Linked DNA regions of Homo sapiens. The protein of the gene in region 3 interacts with the protein of the main gene of each other region in a biochemical or structural test. Each region holds a gene or a part of one and is shown on either strand. Other genes may lie near its edges.

Evidence for each region. Proteins that work in one complex are often made in the same cells at the same time.
Region 1: the proteins of STMN1 (region 3) and RLIM form a complex in vitro, tested with the Homo sapiens proteins (one study listed by BioGRID).
Region 2: of the proteins of STMN1 (region 3) and CAMK2G, one has a biochemical effect on the other in vitro, tested with the Homo sapiens proteins (one study listed by BioGRID).

The regions. Positions count from the first base shown.
Region 1 is NC_000023.11:74,590,625-74,598,205, forward strand, and holds part of RLIM (E3 ubiquitin-protein ligase RLIM), read right to left. Parts: intron 5,377-7,581; 5' UTR 5,354-5,376; coding exon 5,185-5,353; intron 3,766-5,184; coding exon 3,682-3,765; intron 2,438-3,681; coding exon 816-2,437; 3' UTR 1-815. UniProt on the Homo sapiens protein: E3 ubiquitin-protein ligase.
Region 2 is NC_000010.11:73,815,556-73,823,136, forward strand, and holds part of CAMK2G (calcium/calmodulin-dependent protein kinase type II subunit gamma), read right to left. Parts: intron 6,176-7,581; coding exon 6,127-6,175; intron 4,091-6,126; coding exon 3,977-4,090; intron 3,341-3,976; exon of another isoform or gene 2,713-3,340; coding exon of another isoform or gene 2,654-2,712; intron 2,000-2,653; coding exon 1,924-1,999; intron 1,563-1,923; coding exon 1,468-1,562; coding exon of another isoform or gene 1,154-1,467; exon of another isoform or gene 312-1,153; intron 1-311.
Region 3 is NC_000001.11:25,902,729-25,910,783, forward strand, and holds the start of STMN1 (stathmin), read right to left. Parts: upstream 3,692-8,055; 5' UTR 3,661-3,691; exon of another isoform or gene 3,634-3,660; intron 3,318-3,633; exon of another isoform or gene 3,124-3,317; intron 2,011-3,123; 5' UTR 1,949-2,010; coding exon 1,936-1,948; intron 1,086-1,935; coding exon 913-1,085; intron 1-912. UniProt on the Homo sapiens protein: Involved in the regulation of the microtubule (MT) filament system by destabilizing microtubules. Prevents assembly and promotes disassembly of microtubules. Phosphorylation at Ser-16 may be required for axon formation during neurogenesis.

The DNA.
Region 1 (7,581 bases), on a different chromosome or scaffold from region 3:
GTTTGTTACTATGTTGGCTCACAAAAAGCAGTTTTCTCAGTTCTAAGCATGGTACTTTACAATTTTTAATGCATTCATACAACAGTGCATTGGAAAAGTACTGAGCCTCTACAAAATAGCTTTACATTTTTAAACAAATGAATGTGATTTTTTTTCACTTACACAAGCATAGGCTTTTTAATATTTCCACAAGATAAATATCTCAATTAAACTATAAGCTCACTCTACAGTGTGCCACAGTGATGGGCTTAGGAGACAGTTATACACTTAGAAGATCCTAACCTTAGTGTTATTTACACTGACATGTCCAGTATCACCAAGTCTGAAAGGTGAACAAACAATACTCAGAATGTGGCTGAATTTGTGTTAACTAATAACTGGGAATGATATAGCTTTAATCACTTATGAAACACATACTGTAACTTAGTCTAAACTGGTAATTTCCTTTGCTCCTCTCTTATGGTGTGGGAAAATTTAAAGATCAACATGAAAAAGGAGCCATTGCTAAGGCAGATCTTTTAAGATAACAAAGGAAAAATTGACAAGTGTATATGATAAATTATCAGTAACAGTGATGCTACCAATTTAACTGGTACGGAAATCAGATTTTTAGGTCCTATAACGTGGCTTTTAAAATATTTCCTTTTATTCTGGAACAAAAACTGGAGAAAGGACAATGATTCCTTCAGAAAGCAATGACTCAATTCAGGTTGTTACTTTACATTTAAGTACCACTCAAAAAGTGGACATAAAAGCAAGTGATTCCTGTTTGCCCATCACTATATCAGCTACATAGCTGAGAGTTCAGATCTTAATTACACAACACTTTCTCTGTTACCAGAAGCTAAGACTGCTCTGCGACAAATAGGACAGGTAGAATTCTCAGATAACCAGCGATCGATGCAGTGGACATGGTACTCATGGGAACAAGGTAGTTTACGAAGTTTGTTGCCTTCTGTATATTCTGTAATGCAAACACTACAGGTTTTTAATGCATCATTTTCACCAAAACTTCTCATTGCCAAGTTGTCAATCTGTTCTTTGGTGAGTCCTCTAGGTTGGTCATCATCATCCTCATTTAAGAGGAAAAACTGAGCCAGGCTAAGGAAGGGCAAAGAGCCACTTTCATCAAATGTGACTGGGGCCCTATGTCGACCCTCTCGCCTGGCACCTGATGAGCCTGATGATGAGCTTCCTTCATTACTGCCTTCAAATAAATCTGAGCTAGTTTCTGAACTTTCACCACCGGAACTGGAACTAGGACTGGAACTGGAACTTGAACTGGAACTGGAACTCGAACTGGAACTGGAACTCGAACTGGAACCAGAACTACTACCACCACCAGAACCTCCTCTTCCACTCCGTGACTCTGCCCTTTCCATATTTCGATTTGAGACTGAGCCAGTAGGCTCTGAGTCGCTATCACTGTACATAAAATAGCTTAACTCACCAAAACCTGTCATTATCTGCCTTAACATGGTCTGAATTGCAACAGATGTAGTCTCACTTAAACCAGTATTTAAGATTCTACGAATGGGAATTCTGATGGTACTGACATAGGTTCTCACACCTGCCCGCTCAGAACGTGAAAATGTACGCCTAAAACCTCCTCGTTCACTTTCATAGGTGACAGTGTTGTTTGGTGTCTGAGACCTAGACCGAGTTCTGCTGGCTATGCTATCTCTCTGCCGATATTCTCCAGGACGAACTCTTCTTACTTGAAGATCAAGGACTATGGTTGGAGGTCTCTGTCCTGATCCTGTAGATTCACCACTGGCAGCTGTGTCTGAAGAACCTGCTCCTTGAGAAGCATTTCTTGTTCCAGAAGCTGCAAAAAGACCTCTACTTAGCAACTCAGGCCCAGATATTTGCTGCCTCAATGTCACATGGTGCCGGGTTCTAGAACTTCCCTCCGTCTCATTTACCAAAGGATGTTCAAAAGTCTGAGATGAGATACTATGATGAGATCTTCGTGGAATTTCACTCATTGGATGCAGAGGTGACCTACTTCTTTCAGCTCTTGCTCTGGTTCTCCGATGGTCTGGGCTCCTGCTTCTTGCCCTCCTCTGACCTCTGGTAGGTGGGACCTCTGTTAACGCTTCAGTTGAATTTCGTTCTGATCTAGATGGCCTTGCAGATGTTGATTCAGATCGTGGGTTTTCCACTTGCCTTTGGCTGTTGTTTTCCACATTTTCTCCACTAGAACGTCTTGCAGATGGCTCATTTTCATTCTCTGAATTTTGGCTCCCATTATTACGGTTAACATTTATCTCTAAACTGAATCTGAAATCACCACTGTTTGGATTAGTCCGACTCACTGCTCTCCAAGATTGGTTTCCTCTTTGCCCACTTCTTGTTGTATTTCCAGTTTGTCTGACAGAGTTAAGCCAGTCTATTATAGAGTCACCATTAGACACATCATCTGAAGAGTCTCCTCCTGTTCAAAACAAAGGAGGGGGAGAGGGAGAAAAAGGAACTACTAAAATGAGGACAATCATATAAGTGCTCTGAAACTCTGCATTAAATAACTTAAAAATTCGGAACACATTTCATAATTACAGATTTTTACAAACTATACTGCATAAATTTATAAGGTAAGAAAATTCTAATTCCATTTGAAAAGAGCAAGCTACACTAGAGAAATTTAGAGAATTATTTGATTTTTAAAGGGAATCTGGAGGAAGTCTATTTTCAGTATTTTATCATATACAGAGCCAAGCATACCACTGTGGGATGGTCAGAAGACGTTTTTTCAGTCCTCTGCCAAAATACTAATGTAATCAAACTAGGTAAGGAAACAGTGTTTAACGAACAGTCACATTTAGTTCAAGCTACATTTCTGTCAAATTTTTATTAGTCTACATACTGTGCCTTTGATAACATTTGAGGTTGTTTTAAAATACAGGACTATTTATTGTAGCCATAAGAAAAATACAAACAAGATTTATAGGTTTAAAAGCATTTGAATATTTCTTAATGTTACCAAGGTTTTCAATGGACATGAAGTTAAAGATCAGATCAAATAAGTAGTCTGAACCTTGCATAGCACATATAATGGCATGTTCAAGAACCAAATTATTATCGTAGCCTCTCAGGTTGCACAATCAAAATCCCTACTTGACACTGGGAGGGAAACACCAGACCTGAGGTTAGAGCAGGATTTCTCAACAGTGGTACTACTGACATTTTAAGCCAGTTAATTCTGTGTCATGGGGGCTGTGTTGTGCATTATGGCATGTCAGGATGTTTGGCAGCATTCCTGCCCTCTACACAAATGTCTCCAGACGTTGCTAATGTCCCACATGGGGCAAAATTATATCTCATTAGGAACCACTGGGTTTAGACATTTCTTTTTGCTGGTGAAGAAGTCACATGTTTATAAAGAAGGAATTAAGTAGGAATAAATTTCAATGGAGGTGAAAAACAAACAAACAAACAAAATCACATTTAAATGGGCCATTTCTCACTGTGTTCCAATTAACATAAACATCTCAAAGGTGAGGTAGAAAAAAAATGCTGACATTCTAAGTATCAAGAAAATGTCAGTTTTCTTTTTATGAGCAGTTACTTAGCACCAAATTAATTTGTGCCAAATCTGGATAATCTTTGGCTGACATTTACTATTACAAAGTTCCTATCATCCCATCGTCTATCCACCTCCCCACCAAAACCAAAACATACCTCTATTTTCATCTGAGTTTTGCGGTGGTGGGCCTTCTTTAATTTGCTGTAGTCGTCTCAGCAACTCTTCCTCAGTACTTTCACCTGAAATTTAACACCACAGGGCAAAGATGACATTAGGGGTATGACAATCAAATACTTTATCAGTGACTCACAGTAATCTGACACAAGATGATTAGAAAAAAAATCATATTTTTAAAAGAGAAAACTTTTTCAAACCAAAAAGAAAAACCAAGGAGTAGGTAGGTCCTGGGAAAAATTCACTTCTTTGGAAACATATTAAAAGCAATTTACAAAGTTCTTTTGCATATAACATCTAACTTTGGCTCACGCCTGTACTCCCAGCACTTTGGGAGGCCGAGGCGGGTGGATCACCGGAGGTCAGGAGTTCGAGACCAGCCTGGCCAACATGATGAAACCCCATCTCTACTAAAAATACAAAAATTAGCCAGACATGGTGGCAGGTGCCTGTAATCCCAGCTGCTTAGGAGACTGAGGCAGGAGAATCGCTTGAGCCCAGGAGGCAGAGGTTGCAGTGAGCAGAGACTGCACCACTGCACTCCAGCCTGGGCGAAAGTGCAAGACTCTGCTTAAAAAAAAAAAAAAAAAAAAAAAGGCAAAGGCAATTCTAAGCTGGGCGCACAGTGGTACCACATCTGTAGTGCCAGCTCGTTGGGAGACTCAGGCGGAAGAATCCCTTGAGTCCAGCCTGGGCAACATGAGACCCTGTCTCAAAAATAAATAAGTAAGTAATTTTTAAGAATTGCAGCTTTGAGAGGAGGATATTGTTATCTGCATTTTAAAATTAAGAAACAGACTGAGCGACAGACTGGCTTGCCAGGAGCCACACCAAACAGCAGGGCCAGAACTCCACCTAAAGCATTCTGATTCAAGCCTGGTATTGTTGGCTAAAAACACACTCCCTCTCTTAAAAGTCATGCTAAAACCTTACCTTTTAAAATCTAAGCAATTACTCAAAGGTAAGTAGAATTAAACAGAAATGAAGAGGAAGACAGATACTGACTTTTAACTAGGATCAAATGGGACTTAGTGGGGTAAAAGATAATTAAGCACAAACTTCTAATTGCTATGTTACCCAAGGCTAGCTCTGGAGGATTACAACTGGGACATATTCAGAAAATCAGAGATAACAGAATAAGTCTTTCCTAAAAACTAAGTTCCCATTAGCTATTCCACACTCGGATTCTTATCTAGTAAGTTAGATAAAGCTAACTAAGAAAAAAAAGATTTAGCTCCATTCTTTTCAATTCAGTTCGCTAAAAATTCATAATTCATAAGTTAAAAATCTCTCTGATATAGTGTAATTCCAAACATCAGTAAATATAATCAGGTAATAAATACAGCAATAAATGTCATTCCATATCCCCTATGTTAAATAATATTTCATAAGGGCTAAAGAAATGGATTTTTAAAACAGGTTCAAGCATTTTTTTTTAAACCAGCAACTTACACTTATAAATCCTTAAATATATGTAAGCATACCTGGGGTGCCTAGCAAATTGTTATCTCTCATAAGCCTATAATCTTCTTCACTCAGGTTATTTACAAATTGATAGAAAGCTTCTTCTCGATCCAATCGGTCCATCTGACTTCTGCGCTGTGCTGCAGACTGATCACCACTTCCTTTGTCATTGGAATCTGAGTTTTCCATATTGATGAACAAGTGGAAAATACCTGAAAAGAGAAAAGAGACTAATCTTGAAAATAAAGGTCACTATGTATTCTATACAAGTTTTAATTATGTGAAAATCCAGAATGTAGGTCTAGAGATGGATTTTCAGACCTCAAATGAAATTTCCTAACAAAAACTCCTGAAAAGCACTGTTATATTAAGAGTAGGTCAAGGGTTGGCAAACTACAGCCCTTGAACCAGACAGGGTTGGCGAACTAAAGCCCTTGGGCCAAATCCAGCCATACTGTGGTATTTTTTGTTTTTTGAGATGGAGTCTCGCTCTCTCAACCAGGCTAGAGTGTAGTGGTGCGATCTCAGCTCACTGCAACCTCCACCTCCTGGGTTCAAGTGATTCTCTGCCTCAGCCTCCCGAAGTAGCTGGGACGACAGGCACCTGCCACCACGCCCAGCTAATTTTTGTATTTTTAGTAGAGACAGGGTTTCACCATGTTGGCCCAATCTGGTCTCAACCTCCTGAGCTCAAGTGACCTGCCCTCCTCAGCCTCCCAAAGTGCTGGGATTACAGGCATGAGCCACCGCACCCAGCCTCGTGCTGCATATTTTTATTCTCCTTGCAACCTAAGAATGGTTTTTAGAGACTATCTTGTGACATATGAAAATGCAATGAAATTCACATTTTAGTGTTCATAAAGTTTTATTGGAACGCAGCCATACACATTCATTTACATGTTATCTATGGCTGCTTCTGTGCTATAATGGCAGAGTTGAGCAGTTGTGACAGACTGTATGTGGCACTCCCATTGCTTTGGACTGCTGCTCTGTGCACTCTTAAGTTGCAGTGATGTAGCTATAATGACAGCATTTCAAGTGCCTTCACACTGGACATTAAAAAAAACTGAGTATACACTCATCATCTCAAACAAAGAGAAAAGTGGACTCTGAATGTCACGCTTAAAGGTGCAGCAGAGGATGGGTTTTTCAAAAATCAGATTAGATGGCAAAGAATGCATGATTATGCAAAAAATACTATATACTAAATACAATATATACTGACACTATTAAACACTAGTGACAATATTCCCAATTCACAGGAAAACTACAGTTCAAAAAGTTAGAAAATTTAAAGTGAAATCTCATCACAAAATATTTCTTCACAAAAATAAAAATGAGGCTTCAATCAAAGTAAATTTCCCAGGGGCTCATTTATTGGCTAAACGAGGAAAGCTGTTTATTGATGGTGAGTTAGTGAAATTATGTTTGAGTGCAGAAGCTGAAGAAATGTGTCCAGAGAAAATAAACATAATATTGGACTTTTGGTAAGTATAGTGGTCCAAAAAGCTGGGAATATTGAAAAGCAATGTCACTAATCAACTGAAAAATAAGGTAAATGATGGAGTGGTTTTCTCTTTGGCTCTTGATTTGTTGACAAATGTAACTGATACTACTTAAGTTATTGTTTATTCAAAGAGCCAAGTGTTGATTATTCAAGGAGTTTGAACTGCAGAAGTAGCCCCTATGTGTAGTCTACATGAAATAATCATAGGTGAGAATATTTTCAAAGTTGAGAAAACTAATTCAGCAAAACCTGAAGCAGAATCTCATAATAAGATATGTTACTACTGGAATGGTAAAAATATATATGGAATGGAAAAAGACCTAGTTGGACAAATTTACAAAGTTTATGAAAATGTAAGGTATTTAACGTTTATGGTTATATATTTTATTACTCATCATCAAGTGATCTGAAGAAAATTTCAATCTATCATATTACTGAACCAGTAGCACTAATGATAAACTTCTCTCTTATGAACTCTGGTTTAAGCTCAAGTTCCATGAATTTTTGTCAGAAATTTTGTCTTGCTCTACAACACAACATTTGATGGGCTAATATTGGTAAAGTTTTATTGTGATTTGTTGTGCTCAAGGCAAAGATGGATTTATTTTCTGTGAGAACCGCTCTCAATTACTATTATCAAACAATAAATAGCTTGGAAAATTAGTGTTTCCTGCAGACTTGATAATGTTTCTTAATGAATCCATCCTAAAACAACAAAGCAAAAAATACTTATATATGAAACTTATACTGTGGTAAAGCCATTTCAGCAACAACATTGGTATCACATGTAATGTCAAGCTGTTTTATATACTTCATGTCCTGACAAAGTAATGAGAGCTCCATTCCCACACAAATTTGTAGCACATACATTTTCTGAGCTCAAACTACAGTTCCAGAACTGTTTTGCAGA
Region 2 (7,581 bases), on a different chromosome or scaffold from region 3:
ATTATAAGATGAGGAAATAGGCTCAAGGAATAATTTGCTCAAATCACACACCTGAACTCAGGACCATGTGACTCTTAACTAAAGCCTATAGATTTTCTATTCTGTTAGGCTGAGTTTAGATTTCATAAGGCTTGGCTCACCCCTAGCTAGGGCTGCAGAACAAAATCATGAACTTAAACCATTCAAAATTGATTTGTAATTTTTTTTAAGGCACCAAAGCTGAAATAGAATCATCAAAGCACCAAGCTCAGGATATTCCCAGGATTCTCTGGGGAAAAGGCAAAAGAAGTTGGATTGCCATTATCAGCATATGCTGTGAAAACTGTGTTGCTTTTATTGAGATTCACATTTTAGTTCAATTCAAATGTTAGACAGGGGCTACATGACACCTTCCTAGTACTAATATAAACTCTGGAATTGCTTCTGGCTAATAGAATTACTTAGATAACAGAGAGTTTATATATGTAGCTGAGATGTGATAAGGGTGGGAGCCAGCGGAGAAGTTAGTGACTAACTATAACTCAGGGCAGGATAGGGAAGGCCCAGCATAAAGTGGGAAGAGATAAAAATAAGGAAGGGGAGGGTCTCATAGAGCAGAGAGAAAGATGGGAGGGGGTGATGATTCAGCTTCTTATCCCCTTATTTTCCATGAACTGTCCAGAATGTACACCCCACCCCCTATACAAGACGTCTGCCTTCCTCCATAGTCAGGAAGATTCTAGCCACAACTTCCGATCTCGCAAATCACCAACAGTGCCCTGGTTTGCACATTCTTATCCTGGTTTTAATTTCCTCTATTGTGAAACCTGCAGACACAGAGCTTAGTTCTTATGTGCTGAGATCATCTCAACCTAATCTCAAAGGGTTTCCTTCCAATCCGTCTTGGAAAGAGGTGAGGCTTAAATAATTTTTTCTTTTTTTTTGAGATGGAGTCTTGCTCTGTTGCCCAGGCTGGAGTGCAGTGGCCTGATCTTGGCTCACTGCAAGCTCTGCCTCCCAGGTTCACATCATTCTCCTGCCTCAGCCACCCGAGTAGCTGGGACTACAGGCACCGCCACCACGCCCGGCTAATTTTTTGTATTTTTAGTAGAGATGGGGTTTCACCGTGTTAGCCAGGATGGCCTCGATCTCCTGACCTCGTGATCCGCCAGCCTCAGCCTCCCAAAGTGTTGGGATTACAGGCGTAAGCCACCGCGCCCGGCAAGAAATAAGTGAGCTTGATTGTGGTGACTGGCACTGCCACAAAGCAGCTGCAGAATGAATGGCACTTGGAGCTCAGGAGCAGGGCCTTCAAAGGTGCCTGTCTACAACCATCGGGGCACAAGGGGACAAGCATACAGAGTAGGAGTGCAGCACGAAGGTCAAATAAGGGAAAAGTGGGCAACTGGGATGAGAAGGTGAGCAGGAGACAGAGACAAAGGGGTAAAGGGGCAGGCAGGAGTATATCAGCAGCACGAACCCACTCACGATTCTCAAAGTAAAACTTATGGAAATCCATCCCCTCCACGAGGTTACCAAGGGCCTCAGGCTCAAAGGAAGTGAGGCCTGGATCACAAATCTTCCTACAGGGAGAAAAAAAAAAGCAGCCTATCAGGCTTCTATGGAGTGACTTGTCTTCCTTCCTTATCAGCGGTGTCTATCCAGTAGCAGCAGGCTACCTGTGGCCATGCCAGACAAGACAGCAAAGATCTTCCAGGCCTGCCTGCTGAGCCACTCAGCCCTGTGCTTTCGGCCCACTGCCAGGATACCATGGGTGAGCTCAGGGAATCTACCTGGAAGGGCTCCCAGTTTAGGAGAGGGCTTAACTCAGATACTTTGCCCAAGGTCCAACCTCCCTTTCCCCAGGGTCCTAATTGTTGTCTGGAAGCAGGGAAGGCCTTGGGAGATGACTTAGGTCACAAAAAAAAATGGGTCTCTACTTACGTGTAGGCCTCAAAGTCCCCATTGTTGATGGCTTCAATCAGCTGTTCTGTAATCTTAATGATCTCCTGTTTTCGCACTGTGGGGGAGAAAAATCCATCAATTTACCTACTGGGGAACCTCCCAAGTTACAGAGAGCCCTCCCCAGTCCTCAGGAGTCCCCTGTGATCGCTTATGACAAAGACATCCCTCTTCTCTGTCTCTAGGGCCCTTGGCAGGAAGAGCGAACACACCTTCCCTCCCGTCTCCCTCTCTGCAGTCTGCAGAGACAATGACCACTTTCTCCTGAAGCCCAGCCATTAGTTATGGTTCTTTGGCCTTTGCCTCCCTTTCCATCAACAACCAGGTTGCAGAAAACACGCTTGCCTTTAACAGGTGAGGAGCCTGGTACATCGTGAATGCTGTGAGCCCCTCCCCTGTATGAGCAGCCTCTCTCACAAGCATCTCCCAATAAGGCCGCTTCCACCCCCAATTTACTTCTCTCACCTGAAGGGGCTCAGTCAGGTCTCAATCACCACCCCCACTCGTAGCCCTCATTCAGTGGCCAGGACCCAGCCCTGGGTGACAGGTAGCCTGACAGCAGAATCCAGCTAGGGCTGGGGTGCCAAAGGACCATCAGAACCCTAGGATGGATGCTTCCCACTGCTCAACTCCACAGGGCTTTTCTGGGAGAAATGATCCCAGAACTGTAAAAACTTGGGACAGCCTGTACCAGAGAGGCTGCTCCATTTACCTCTCGAGGCTTGGGAAAGCTGCACATTTCACACCAGCTCTCATTGCCAGGACGTGTTCCTCAGGAAAACCAGACAGGGCTCAGACTGACAGGCAGGCAGAGGTGGTGCCCTCCAGAGGCCTCCTCCCCAACCCATCCAAAGCCAAGGGACAGCTGGTGATGTCCTGCCGGCATGGGCTTCTCTTATAGGGAATGCCACTACCAGCAGGGGCTGCCACCAGGGTAAGGGAGAGCTTGGGTTGAGCTTGGGCTCATCCTAACCCGAGCCCTGGGCGGGGCCAGGCCACAACCCTTTCCTCACAGGAGCAAAAGGCTGCAAGACAACTGCAAGCGTTAGAACAGCACCACCACGGCCCAGCCGGGCCAGCACAGCCAAGCAGCACAGTTGGGACAGGGCAGCGCAGCCAAAGGCACATCCAGGAGGGGGCCCCACAGCCGTCAGCCCCGCTAGGCCACAGCTCCAGGTGAGCAAGCAGCAGGTTAAGGGAAGCAAGGAGTTCGATCGGCTTCCAAAAGCAGCAGGCAGGTGTGCACCCACAACACACACACCCTCTCCAACCCCACCAGACCCATCTGGATGACCTGACTGGGGCCCCACGGGCGAAGAGGGTTGTGCTTAGAAACTCTGCAAGGATAGATGGTGGGAGGAAAAGCAGCAGACAAAGGCATCCTCCAGCACAGACGTAACTAGAAATATGAGGATGAGCTACTGATAACCCATCGAGGCACCGTATCAAGACTTCCTACTGCCTTGTCTTTTATCTAACAAGGCTCTGAGGTGCGTGCCATTTTATTTCCACATTACAGATAAGGAACCTGCAGCTCTGGGAGGTTAAACTTCACACTCTTGAAGGCAGTGTAGCTGGGATTTAAACTCAGATCTATCTTGCCTCTGACCCCATGCTCTTAATACTGTTATGCTGAGACTCAGGAAGCACTACATCCCCAACACAGTTCCTCGCTGTCACGATTTCCCCATCATCCCACTCCCACCCCCACAGACCTGACTTCCGACTCTGCCCTTCTTCCTGGCTCAGCGCTGAGGCAAGGCCCACTGCACATCCTGGGGGCTTTCTACTCCCCTCATCCCAGGCCATGTTTTTCCACCCACACTTCTCATATTTCTTTGGGCCCCAGACTCAGGGGCCCCTGCCTGGTCTCAACAGCACCTCCAGTCTACCCCCCACCCCCAGCAGAGGCCATGCTCCCAGAGCTTACTACCACGGGCAGGTGGGTGGGACTGACAGCTGTGGTGGGGGTCCCTGAGGGGCTTCAGGACGAGCCAGGGAGACGGAAGCCAGAATGTGCCTCCCTCACACTTACTGGCTGAGGAGCAGAGAGAAGGCTGGGGCTGCATGCCTGCAGAGGGGGCTGTTCTGTCCCGGGAGCTCCGTCCTTCAGGCACCGAGCTGCCATTCCCAGTGCGGAGCGGGGCAGCTAGCCAGCCAGGGCAGGGCAGGGCAGGGCAAGGCAGAGCAGCCAAAACAAACAGAACAAGGCAGGTGAGCGAGCAAGCCAGACAGGCCCCGAGCCCATGGCGCTGCAGAGCCGGGGCAAGGGGACGCCTCGCCTCAGGCTGCTGTGGACACTGGACGACATCCCACGCCGCCGCCTCTGCCAGAGAGGCCTCCCAGCTGAGGGCACCAGGCAGGTGCCCAGACCTGGGCTGTGGCTTCCAGACGAGCCTTACAACAGCCTGTCCAAGGACCCCTGATCCCGGGGAAGATGTTCCAGGGGGCCAGGCCACAGGGTCCAGAGCCCAGCAGTGACAGCGCCTCCTATGTTGCCAGCAGTGCCGGAATCAAAACTGATCTGACCTCACTCACAGGGGCCTGGAGCTACTATGATTCACTTCCTCGCAGCTTTCTGCTATTTTTTTTGGTTCCAAAAGGTTTGGTGCCCCCTTGCCACCCAGGGCATGCTCTCCCAGCTCTGTCCTAGAGTGTTCCTCTGTCTTTTCTGATGTCCTGGCCCAAGGTCACTTACTGAATTCAGGCAAAGGGAGCAATTCCAGGAGGCCCAATCAAAGAGCAGGACAGAGATTCCCGGGGGTCCAGCCTGCCATGCCCTCCCACCGCCCTGGCACTCTAGCCAGGCCCAAGCTTAGGCTAGTGGTCCTTACGGGCCCACCAGGACATGACCAAATGTGGCCTCACGGTTGTCAGATTAGTTCCAACTCCATCATTCAGGCCAAAATCTTAGGACTAGAGTGACCAACTCATCCCAGTGTTCCCAGGACTATCTGGGTTTTATATTTATATATATATATATATATATATATATATTTTTTTTTTTTTTTTTTTCTTGAGACAGAGTCTCGCTCTGTCACCCAGGCTGGAGTGCAGTGGTGCAATCTCAGCTCACTGCAACCTCCACCTCCCGGGTTCAAGCCATTTTCATGCCTCAGTCTCCCGAGTAGCTGGGATTACAGGACCCCGCCACCACACCCGGCTAATTTTTTTTTTTTTTTTTTTTTTTTTTGAGAAGAAGTTTCGCTCTTGTTGCCCAGGCTGGAGTGCAATGGGGTGATCTCGGCTCACTGCAACCTCCACCTCCCAGGTTCAAGCGATTCTCCCACCTCCGCCTCCCGAGTAGCTACGATTACAGGCACCTGCCACCACACCTGGCTAATTTTTTATATTTTTAGTAGAGATGGAGTTTCACCATGTTGGCCAGGCTGGTCTTGAACTTCTGACCTTCAGGTGATCCACCCACCTTGGCCTCCCAAAGTGTTGGGATTACAGGCGTGAGCCACTACGCCCGGCCTTTTTTTGTATTTTTAGTAGAGACGGGGTTTCATCATGTTGGCCAGGCTGGTTTTGAACTCCTGACCTCAAGTGATCCACTTGCCTCGGCCTCCCAAAGTGTGGGGATTACAGGTGTGAGTCACCGCACCTGGCCTATTTATTTGTTCCTAATTTTTTTTTTTTAATAGAGACAAGGTCTTGCTATGTTGCCCAAGCTTGTCTCAAACTCCTGGTCTCAAGCAATCCTTCTGCCCTGGCCCTCCCAAAGTTCTGGGTATTACAGGTGTGAGCCAGCACTCCTGGCCCATCACAGTCTTAAAACCAAAAGTTCTGTGTCCGAGGAAAACCAGGAGTGATTGGTCACTCTATTTATGACTCATAGCACTTACAGGCTACTTCGGCAGGGACTTGGGGTACCCCTGTTCTTGGATGGCACATCATTATCAGCAACAGGAACAGTTCTCTGAGCCCTGGCCCCTGGAGAATCTCTAGCTTAGCTATTTTAGACTTGGGGTCAAAGAAGAGAAGCCTCTTGCCCAACTCAGCAACACCAGACAGGGGCCTCATATCTTGGCTCGTGGAAAGTAGCTTTTATACCAAGCCCTCTCCTAGGGGCATAGGAGCCAGCATTCCCAGTTCTGGGGACAGAAAAGGCAGGTGCCCCATTGGAGCCCAGGTACCTGGGTCACTGCTGGAGTCCTTCCCCCTCCAAGGGCCAGCACCTACCTTTGAGGTCCTCATCTTCTGTGGTGGTGTTGCAGCTCTCTGTGGAGCCCTGTAGGCCAAAAAGAACATGTTTCTATATGCTCCATCCCTTGGAAGCCAGAGGAGCAAAGCAGAACAAAAGCAGAGTTTCTGCTCCTACAAGAGGTGCAAGGAGGAATTGTGGAAGGTTCTGCTTCCACCCTGGCTGTCTGACTCTTCCCAAATCCCCTCCCTAGTCTTCCCCCAGTTGGTAAATGCCACCATCTACCCAGTTACTCAGGCTAAAACCTGGAGTCATCCTCAATCCTTCTCTTTCTCTTTTTCCCTTATATTCAGATCGCCCAATCTAAAATAAAATCTTCTGGTTCTGCCTCCAAAGTAAACCCCATGTCTTACCTCTTCACTTCCAATGCACAGCTACAACCTGACTCCAGGCCACCAGCATCTCACACCTGAACCATGATAACAGCTTCATGGTCTCCCTAACTTCCACACTTACCTCCTCCCTAGAGTTTTTCTTTTTTGAAACAGAGTTTTGCTCTTGTTGCACAGGCTGGAGTGCAATGGCATGATCTCGGCTCACTGCAACCTCTGCCTCCCGGGTTCAAGTGATTCTCCTGTCTCAGCCTCCTGAGTAGCTGGGATTACAGGTGCCTGCCACCATGCCTGGCTAATTTTTGTATTTTTATTAGAGATGGGGTTTCATCATGTTGGCCAGGCTGGTCTCGAGCTCCTGACCTTTGCTGATCCACTCGCCTCGGCCTTCCAAAGTGCAGGGATTACGGGCGTGAGCCACCACGCCCGGGCCTCCCTAGAGTTCTTGATCATGAGGCCAGAGTGGTGTTTTAAAGTGTCAACTAGATTCTGTTACTCCTGCTAAGAACTCCCAATAGCTTCTCCTTGCTGCTGGAAGAAAATGCAAACTCCTACAAGGGCCTCTGTAGCAGGCCCTGCTGCTTCTCCAACCTCATCACTCTCCTATGGTTCTCCCCGTCTCACTTTGCTCTTCCCTCTGCTTGATTACAAAGGCCACATCTGAGCTTCAGTTCCTTCTGCTTAGGGCACTCAGCCTCAGAGCTGGCCTGGCTGCCTCCTTCCCACCCACCATTCAGTTTCTAGCTCAGATATCACCTCCTGAAAGAAGCCCTCTCCTGACTACTTAATTCAAGGCCCTGTTCTCTCTGTCTAGTTTGGTGAGGTTTTTCTGTTTTTCATTTTTTAGATGGAGTCTTGCTCTGTCGCCCAGGCTGAAGTGCAGTGGCACGATTTCAGCTCACTGCAACCTCCGCCTCCCAGGTTCAAGCGATTCTCCTGCCTCAGCCTCCCAGGTAGCTGGGATTACAGGCATGTGCCACCATCCCCAGGTAATTTCTGTATCTTTAGTAGAGATGGGGTTTTGCCATGTTGGCCAGGCTGGTTTTGAACTCCTGACCTCAAGTGATCCGCCCGCCTTGGCCTCCCAAAGTGCTAGGATTA
Region 3 (8,055 bases):
ACCTTTGGTTGTATTGCTTCCTCCTACTCCATGAACTCACACTATTGCATAGAAGACGACTCCTTAGTGTAAGCACTGAGGCTCTTCGGGCGGGTGTGTGTGTATACTACAAATCACTATGCTGGTCTGGGGAAGGTTATTACCTTACCTTTTGTGCCTCACTTGCCCCAGCTTTAAAATCAATCCTATCAGGGTTGTTGAGAAAGGGAGTTAAATGAAAAGTTATGTACAGTTGTTAATGAGTAACATTGAATGGAAAGAAACACACCAAAATGTTAACACTGGTTGCTTCTCGGAAGCGGGATAATGAATACTTTTAATTTCCATTTATAAATTTCTGTATTTCCCAAATTTTCTACAACTAGCATATTAATATTTATTGATTCTTCTGATTAGCTTTTAAAGATAGTTACTTTATAATAGAATTGTTTAGATAAGAGAAAAGCTACCATGATACCAGCTGAGCAACACAATCACACTAGCAATTTAAAATGTTATTGTACAGCTCTCAAAAAACAAAACCAAAGTGCCAAAGAATCATCTGGCAACAAATCTTTTCAAAGAGGAAGCATGAGAGAAGCATGAGCTTTGGTTTAAGATAGACCAGGGCTTGAATTCTGACCCCAACACTTACTAGTTGTATGACTGCAGAAAAACGACTTAACATTCCTGAAACTGTTTCTAATTTCCATTATTTGAGGCAACACCATGTATTAAAGGAGAAAAATATAAACAAAGGAGCGGGCATGTAACAGGAGTTCAATAAATGAGGACTGGTATTTCCTTCCAGTCACTGGCATATGTAATAATCACAGTGTAGCTACAATTCTGTTTTCTTCCTGTTATAGAAATAAAATTGATCTGCCCATTACATAAATTAATATCCTGCTTTCTGTGAATTGCTTCGTTTACCTTGCGTCTTTCTTCTGCAGCTTCTAATTTCTTCTGAATTTCCTCCAGGGAAAGATCCTTCTTCTTTGGAGGGGAAAGGGGGAATTCTGGAACAGATTCTTTTGACCGAGGGCTGAGAATCAGCTCAAAAGCCTGGCCTGAGGCACGCTTCTCCAGTTCTTTCACCTGGATATCTAGAATTGATTATATTTATAATTCAGAAAACCAGGATTCTCCTGTTCTAATAAACTGTACTATAATTTTCTAAAACCCAAATCAATTTAATGTATTAAACTAGGGCTGATGAGGAAAGTTGTGTTTTTTTTCCCCTTTTTATTCCTATCAGTCTACTGACACTAGGGGAAGATGTATTTGCAGGCAAGATATTATTATCTAAATACCATTTCCCAAGGCCAGGTACCATGGCTCATGCCTATAATCCCAGCACCGTGGGAGGCCAACATGGGAAGATCCCTTGAGCCCTGAAGTTTGAGACCAGCCTGGGCAACAAAGGGAAAGCCCATCTCTACAAAAAAAATTTTTTTTGATTAGGTGGGTGTGGTGGCCCATGTCGATAGTCCCAGATGCTATGGAGGCTGAGGTGGGAGAATCGCTTGAGCCCACTTGAGCTCCAGAAGTCAAGGCTGCAATGAGCTATAATTAAGCCACTGCACTCCAGCCTGGGCAACAAGGTGAGACCCTGTCTCAAAAAAAATAAAAACCATCTCCCAGAAAAACAAAGCTCAACATTTTTGGATTAATAAATACTGTTTTGAGACATCAGTATCTGACAATCGCTTTCATAAACAAAAGACTTGTGCAAACTCCACAATTTTGCTTCAGACTAAGCCAAACTGTCCAATAAACAATTACGAGCTCTCGGCACATTCAAGTGATAATCATTTTTAAATTCTTCTCCTATTCATAAAATAGGTTTTGGTAAGACCAAAACATAAGTGCCAAATCAAAGGCGAAGACCTGAGCCATCTCAATCTAAAATCATAAGCCCATTACAATTTCAGATTTTCCAAATAGATTACCTACCAGAAGAAGCCATGGTGAATAGAAGACAAGCGACAGGCAGTGTATTCTGCACAATCAACTGGGATAAGGAAAGTCCTGAAAATGATTTTCAAAAACATGCAATCACTTTCTTTGCCTTTCTATATGTCATCAACCCAAAAAAATCTCACATCACATCTACATACATCGTCAGAAAAATACGTGGAATAAAGACGTCTAAATTAACCACGAAAAAAATTATCAAAATCTACTAAATAAACATTGGGAAATATGACCTGAATATGATATTGGTTCCAGAAAATCAAGTTAACTGAGCTTTCTCGGTCATAAAACTCTTGGATTTTTAAAATCAGACAAAGTCACAAGGGTGAAGAATTTTTCCCCCATAAACTCTTTAACATTTCACCGAAACTGTAAGAAGATATTCCAGATTCAACTCAACAGTGCCCCCGGAGCCATCTTAATACTGCCTACAACTCATTGTGCAAATGAAATACCCACCCCTGCTTTGTCTGTGTCTGACGTGGTGGATAAGAAAACGCCCAAGCTAATAGTAACCAATAATGTTGAACTCCTATTGTCCCTCAGGTTTAAGCTTCCTTGCCCAACAGCAAGCAAAATGTTTATGAACCTCTAGATTTTGACTTATATTTGCTGCCGTTATGTCATGAAAAATGCTGTATCTCTTGTTGATCTTTTTAACATTATGACTTTTGTAGACGCCAGCTAGTACCAAAAACGTAGGATGACAGGTTCCCAAAAGCTAGGAATTAAAATCAGAGGCAGCGACAAGATTTAAGAAAAGCAGAGAATTAGACGCAGCACCGGACCCAGGATGGGCGTGGCCCTGGTCCGGGCGAGGAAAAGAGGACCGGTCGCCCCCGGCCAATCAGAGCACGCCTTGCGCTCCGGCCCCTGGCCCCGCCCCCTTCCTCCCCGCGCCTTTTCGAATCTCCCCGAACTCAACACCCCGGAGCCCGCGCGCGTGGGAAGGGGAGGGGTGGGCGGGGCTAACGGTCCAATCCGGGTAACTCCGCCCCTGCCTGACTCCCCCTGCGCGGACGCCCCCCCCAACTCCCGCCAAAAACACCTCCAGGCCGCCGCCACCACCCCCTTCACAGTTCAGCGGGTGGGGCAGGCCCCGGGAACAGGCCCCCGGGTGGTCCCGCGGTGAGCTCGCCACCGCCTCCCGCCGTCCCCATGCCCAACCTGCCGCCACCCACGCTGTCCGCGCGTCCGGCCGCGAAGACAGAAGAACCCTCGTGGGGCCCGGGAGCGCCGCCCCTCAATCACCAGCTGCGGTCGCCAGGGGACGGTCGCAGGGAGGGTCGCGGCCCTGGCTGCCCGCAGTTTGGTCCTAAAGCCGCTGGTCCCTGGGGCACCGCCCCGTCCCTTCAGACAATGGGGAACCCGGCGGGGCCCGCAGGGAAGGGAGGGAGGGAGGGAGGTAAACGAGGGCCCACGCCCCCTATTGTCTCCTCGACGGCACCCCGGAGCGGACGCCCGGTGATCGCCCAGCCCCCTGCCCACGAACAGCCGCGCCCCCGGAGAGCGGGGACAAAGGCGAGGCTCCGCCCGAGCCACACACAAAGCGGAGCGACCCCCGCCCACCAACCCCTCCGAGGCCCGCAGCCCCGCCCGCCGCCCTGCAGCAGGGGGTCGCTGCCACGGCCCAGCCCCTCCCGCCGACCGCGTCCCTCTTGCTGGCCTCAGCCAGCCGCCGCCTCCTCCGAGCCCCGCACCCACCTGCTCAGTCCGAGCCGCCTGACCACACTCTGAGCACCAACAGACCCGGGCGCGCACAAAAGCGCCAAACAGAGGCACGTGACCTCCGCGCGGGGCTCCGCATTGGCCGAGAGCGGCGGCACGTGCCGCCCCCGCCCCCCACAACCCGCGTGGAGCGCCGCCCCCCGGGACCCCGAAGCACCTCGGGAAGTGTAGTCCTGTCCCGGAGGGCAGGAGGACAATGCCGGGGGTTGCAGGGCGCCTGGGGAGCATCCCCAGGTGTGGGCCTGGGACTAGGGGGGTGGTCTCGCCGTGGAAGAGGGCGTGGCAGTGGACCCCGGACTAGGTCCGAACCAGCTCCCCATTCTCGAGAACAAGGGCAGGGCGGAGCAGGCGGAGGGCGGGGGGGTCCTTCCCTACCTTTCCAAACTTTGGCCGCCTGGACTCCACCTTGTAGAGCCACATGCCCGCCTCGCCCCAAGGGCAGCACTCGGACAGAGCAGTGCCCCTTCTAGTGCGCCACCCACATGGGTGCCTAAGACGCCCGAGCCCCTGTGACAGCACAATGCCACTCCACGCCCCTGCAGGGCCCCCTGCCCCCGGCACCCTACACCGACACCGGCGTGTCACCCATATTGTGACATCATCGTAATTTCTAATCCACTCAGCCCACAGGTCGCGGGCGTGGCCCTTCCCTCACTGTGTGCGTTCTTGCCAGCATCCTCAGGTTCCCGAGCCGGTGACCAGGGACCTGTGCGGGAAAGCGTGGGGCTCTGGAATTTGATCGCCTTTGGTCTAACAAAGCCACTCAGCTTAAATGCAGACTCCATCTGTTCTTCCAAGCCTTCTGCGGATGATAGGGGAGGAAGAGCAATAGCCGTTCTAGACTACACAGATTGCAGTTAAGTGTTGCTTTTGTTCTCAGAGCACGTGCTCCCCAGAGCAGCACTGGGTTCTTTTTAAAAATCGAAAAAGGAGCCACAAGGTCACTGTTCTCCCTGACCTGGATAGCTCAGAACCTCAGCAAAGGCACAAAGGAAATTGGTCTGACCGTGCCTTAGAATAACTGGCCCTTTCTCTCACAAAAAGGGGAAAAAAATAAATGAAATGAACATGGTCCCCGCCTCCTCCCATTCTCTGACCAAGACCGTGTCCTCGGTTGGTGGTCAATACACCAAGACACCTGCTTTGAGATCTTGACTAAGCAGAAGAGATATCTTTATTTTATTAATGAGCTGCATCTCCCCAAATCAAGAAACAAATGTGACCAACCTTCCTGAAACAACAGTCCTAATTTAGAAAGACTCTCATGCCTAGTTAGTCACCAGGGATGTGCCAGAGATAAAATACAACTAAGGGGTGCCCAAGACAATAAAAACTGGATCATACAAGCAGCAGCACACTACACAAAGCAAACAATTAGCAATGCGCTGTTGCCTGAAATATGCTTGTTGCGGCATTTTTTCCAACAATCGCCCTTGTGTGGGGTCGGCCTCCCCCCCAAGCCAATCGAAGTGGTTTTCACTTAGCCTGTGAGCAGGACCAGGAATAATTCAGATACTGAGCCTTGAAAGGCTTCTTCTCAGACCAAACTTAGCTTCAAAATGGCTAGGTGCTTCCGTCTGTCATTTTTCTGAACAGAATCTCAGACATCATTAGAAAAGTTGGAGAAGGATGGGCATGAGACCCCTCAGGAAAGCGACAGATAGGCAGGCAACACAAATGAGCAAGGAACCCAAGCCCAAGAGGTCCTTACCCACTGAACAGGCTTTTTATCTTGAAGTCTTTGTATTTGATCTGGAGGTTCACAGAGGAAGGTCCCACTCATTTAATGCATTTTTTTAAGTACAATAAATTGCCACACAAAAGTCTCACATTCCTGACTATTAATGTTGTGACAGAAAAAAGAAATAAATCTTTCAAAACACTGATAATTTGAAAGCACTTACACTGCTTCCCCCCACATTTTCTTTCTCCCTAGAGCAGATGTCTATTTCCATGGAAACCATAGCAAGGAACGTAGATGTTAGAACTCATGTTCATTTTTAATCTTTTTTAGCAATGCCACTTGGCTTCTGGGTTTGTTGGGAGATGCCTGGTTCTGCCAGTCTGTGACAATGTTCCAAGCTCCTCACAGCTGCTTGAGGACTGAGAGGGCTGGGTTAAAGTTTCCCCTAGAATGAGCCTTTGAATAAAAAGGTGCTTTTGAGGTGGGATTCCTGTCCTTTTATTATTATTATTATTATTATTATTATTATTATTATTATTATTATTATTTGACTTAAAAAAAATTGAGACAGGGTCTCACTATGTTGCCCAGGTTGGCCTCGAACTCCTGGGTTCAAGCAATCCTCTTGTCTCAGCCTCCCAAAGTGCTGGGATTACAGGCATGAGCCACCACACCCAGTCTGATCCTTGTTCTTTAGGGTGGGGCTGCCTTCCCAAGAGCCAGATCACAGCTCATTATTGTCAGCTTTTGTGGGTGTCCTATATAAGCCTTGGAATAGGAAGGGCTTTCAACTGTAAGGAGAGACAACAGTTTTGCCACTTCACCTTGGAGAGGGGCAGAATCGCCCTTCTCGAAAGCTTCCTAAAACGAACTTCAAGATCCACTCTCTTCTGAAGTGGCAGCAAGGAGTTAATGTTCACATCTTGGAACTGTCTATCTTTGCCCATAAGAATTATTTTTGCTTCTGCTCAGATGGTTTGGTTGGATTGTTATGGAGCTGGCTGTGACTATGGAGCCACACAACGAAGTGGAGATAGGGCAGTCATCCAGCTTATTTGATCTGTGTAGACAGCTAAAGGAGAGCACTTCAGGCTTCAAAGTCTAGAAGGAATGTCTACACTGATCAAACGGCGGGCCAGGCCGTTGTCAGATCTCCTCTCCTGCCAGAGAGCCCGGCAGCCTTTGTTCATTGTTGGGCTTGAGGCTGCAGGGTTTGTCTCCCACATGGCGCCTCCAAGTTCCACAGCTGCTTTCGAGGCCTGTCCTCGGCCAAAGGGTGTCGTGGGAGAGGTTTGCTTGTTGTCCCCGGTCTCTCTGTTCCCTTTGTCTCCTAATCCTCAAGCACTATGCTCTAACACTCCCTTCTCTATTCAAAACCTGTCTATGAGTCTGCTGTTTTACACATCGATCTCCCTCACTAGACCATTAGGTCCTAGAGGGCAGGGTGCTGTCTTTGTCTTGGTATCCCTAGTGCAGTGCCCATCCTCAGGCCTGGCCCAGGATGATGGCGCCTGAATGTTTGCAGAGAACTTTGGGAAAGAACAACCTCTTGGCCGGGCACGCTGGCTCACACCTCTAATCCCAGCACTTTGGGAGGCTGAGGCAGGCGGATCACAAGGTCAGGAGATCGAGACCATCCTGGCTAACACGATGAAACCCCGTCTCTACTAAAAATACAAAAAATTAGCCAGGCATGGTGGCGGGCGCCTGTAGTCCCAGCTACGCACGAGGCTGAGGCAGGAGAATGGCATGAACCTGGGAGGTGGAGGTTGCAGTGAGCCGAGTTCACGCCACTGCCTTCCAGCCTGGGCGACACAGCAAGACTCCGTCTCACAAAAAAAAAAAAAAAGAACAACCTCTCTCATCCTTCTGTGATCTTCTGTCTCTTCTGTGATATTAGACACTTGCACTCTGGGAGTGGTGAGGATTAAATGAAATAATGTAAATGAAAACAGCACAATGCCTGGCACATTTAAAGTGCTGTGCACTTGTTAGGTATCATTGCTAGAGATGTTTCCTGATTGCTATAGATTATTTTATTTTTATTTTTTGAGACGGAGTTTTGCTTTTGTTGCCCAGGCTGCAGTGCAGTGGTGCAATCTCAGCTCACTGCAACCTCCGCCTCCCAGGTTCAAGCGATTCTCCCGCCTCAGCCTCCTGAGTAGCTGGGATTACAGGTGTGCGCCACCATGCCCAGCTAATTTTTTGTATTTTTAGTAGAGATGGGGTTTCATCACGTTGATCAGGCTGGTCTCAAACTCCTGACCTCAGGTGATCCACCTGCCTCGGCCTCCCAAAGTGCAGGGATTACAGGCGTGAGCCGCGGTGCCTGGCCTGCTATAGGTTATTGAATGAGTGAATGACTATTAGACTTTCACCCTTTGATGGAAATTGTAGTTACTGGGTTAACTCTTCCCATGGGGTTAAATTCAATTCATTTAACACTTTATTTTTTATTTTTATTTTTATTTTTATTTTTTTGAGCAACAAGGCTGTTTATTTCACCTGGATGCAGGCGGGCTGAGTCCGAAAAGAGAGTCAGCAAAGGGTGGTGGGATTATCATTGGTTCTTATAGGTTTTGGGATAGGCAGTAGAGTTAAGAGCAATGTTTTGGGGGCAGGGGATGGATCTCACAAAGTACATTCTCAAGGGTGGGGAGAATTACAAAGAAACTTCTTAAGGGTGG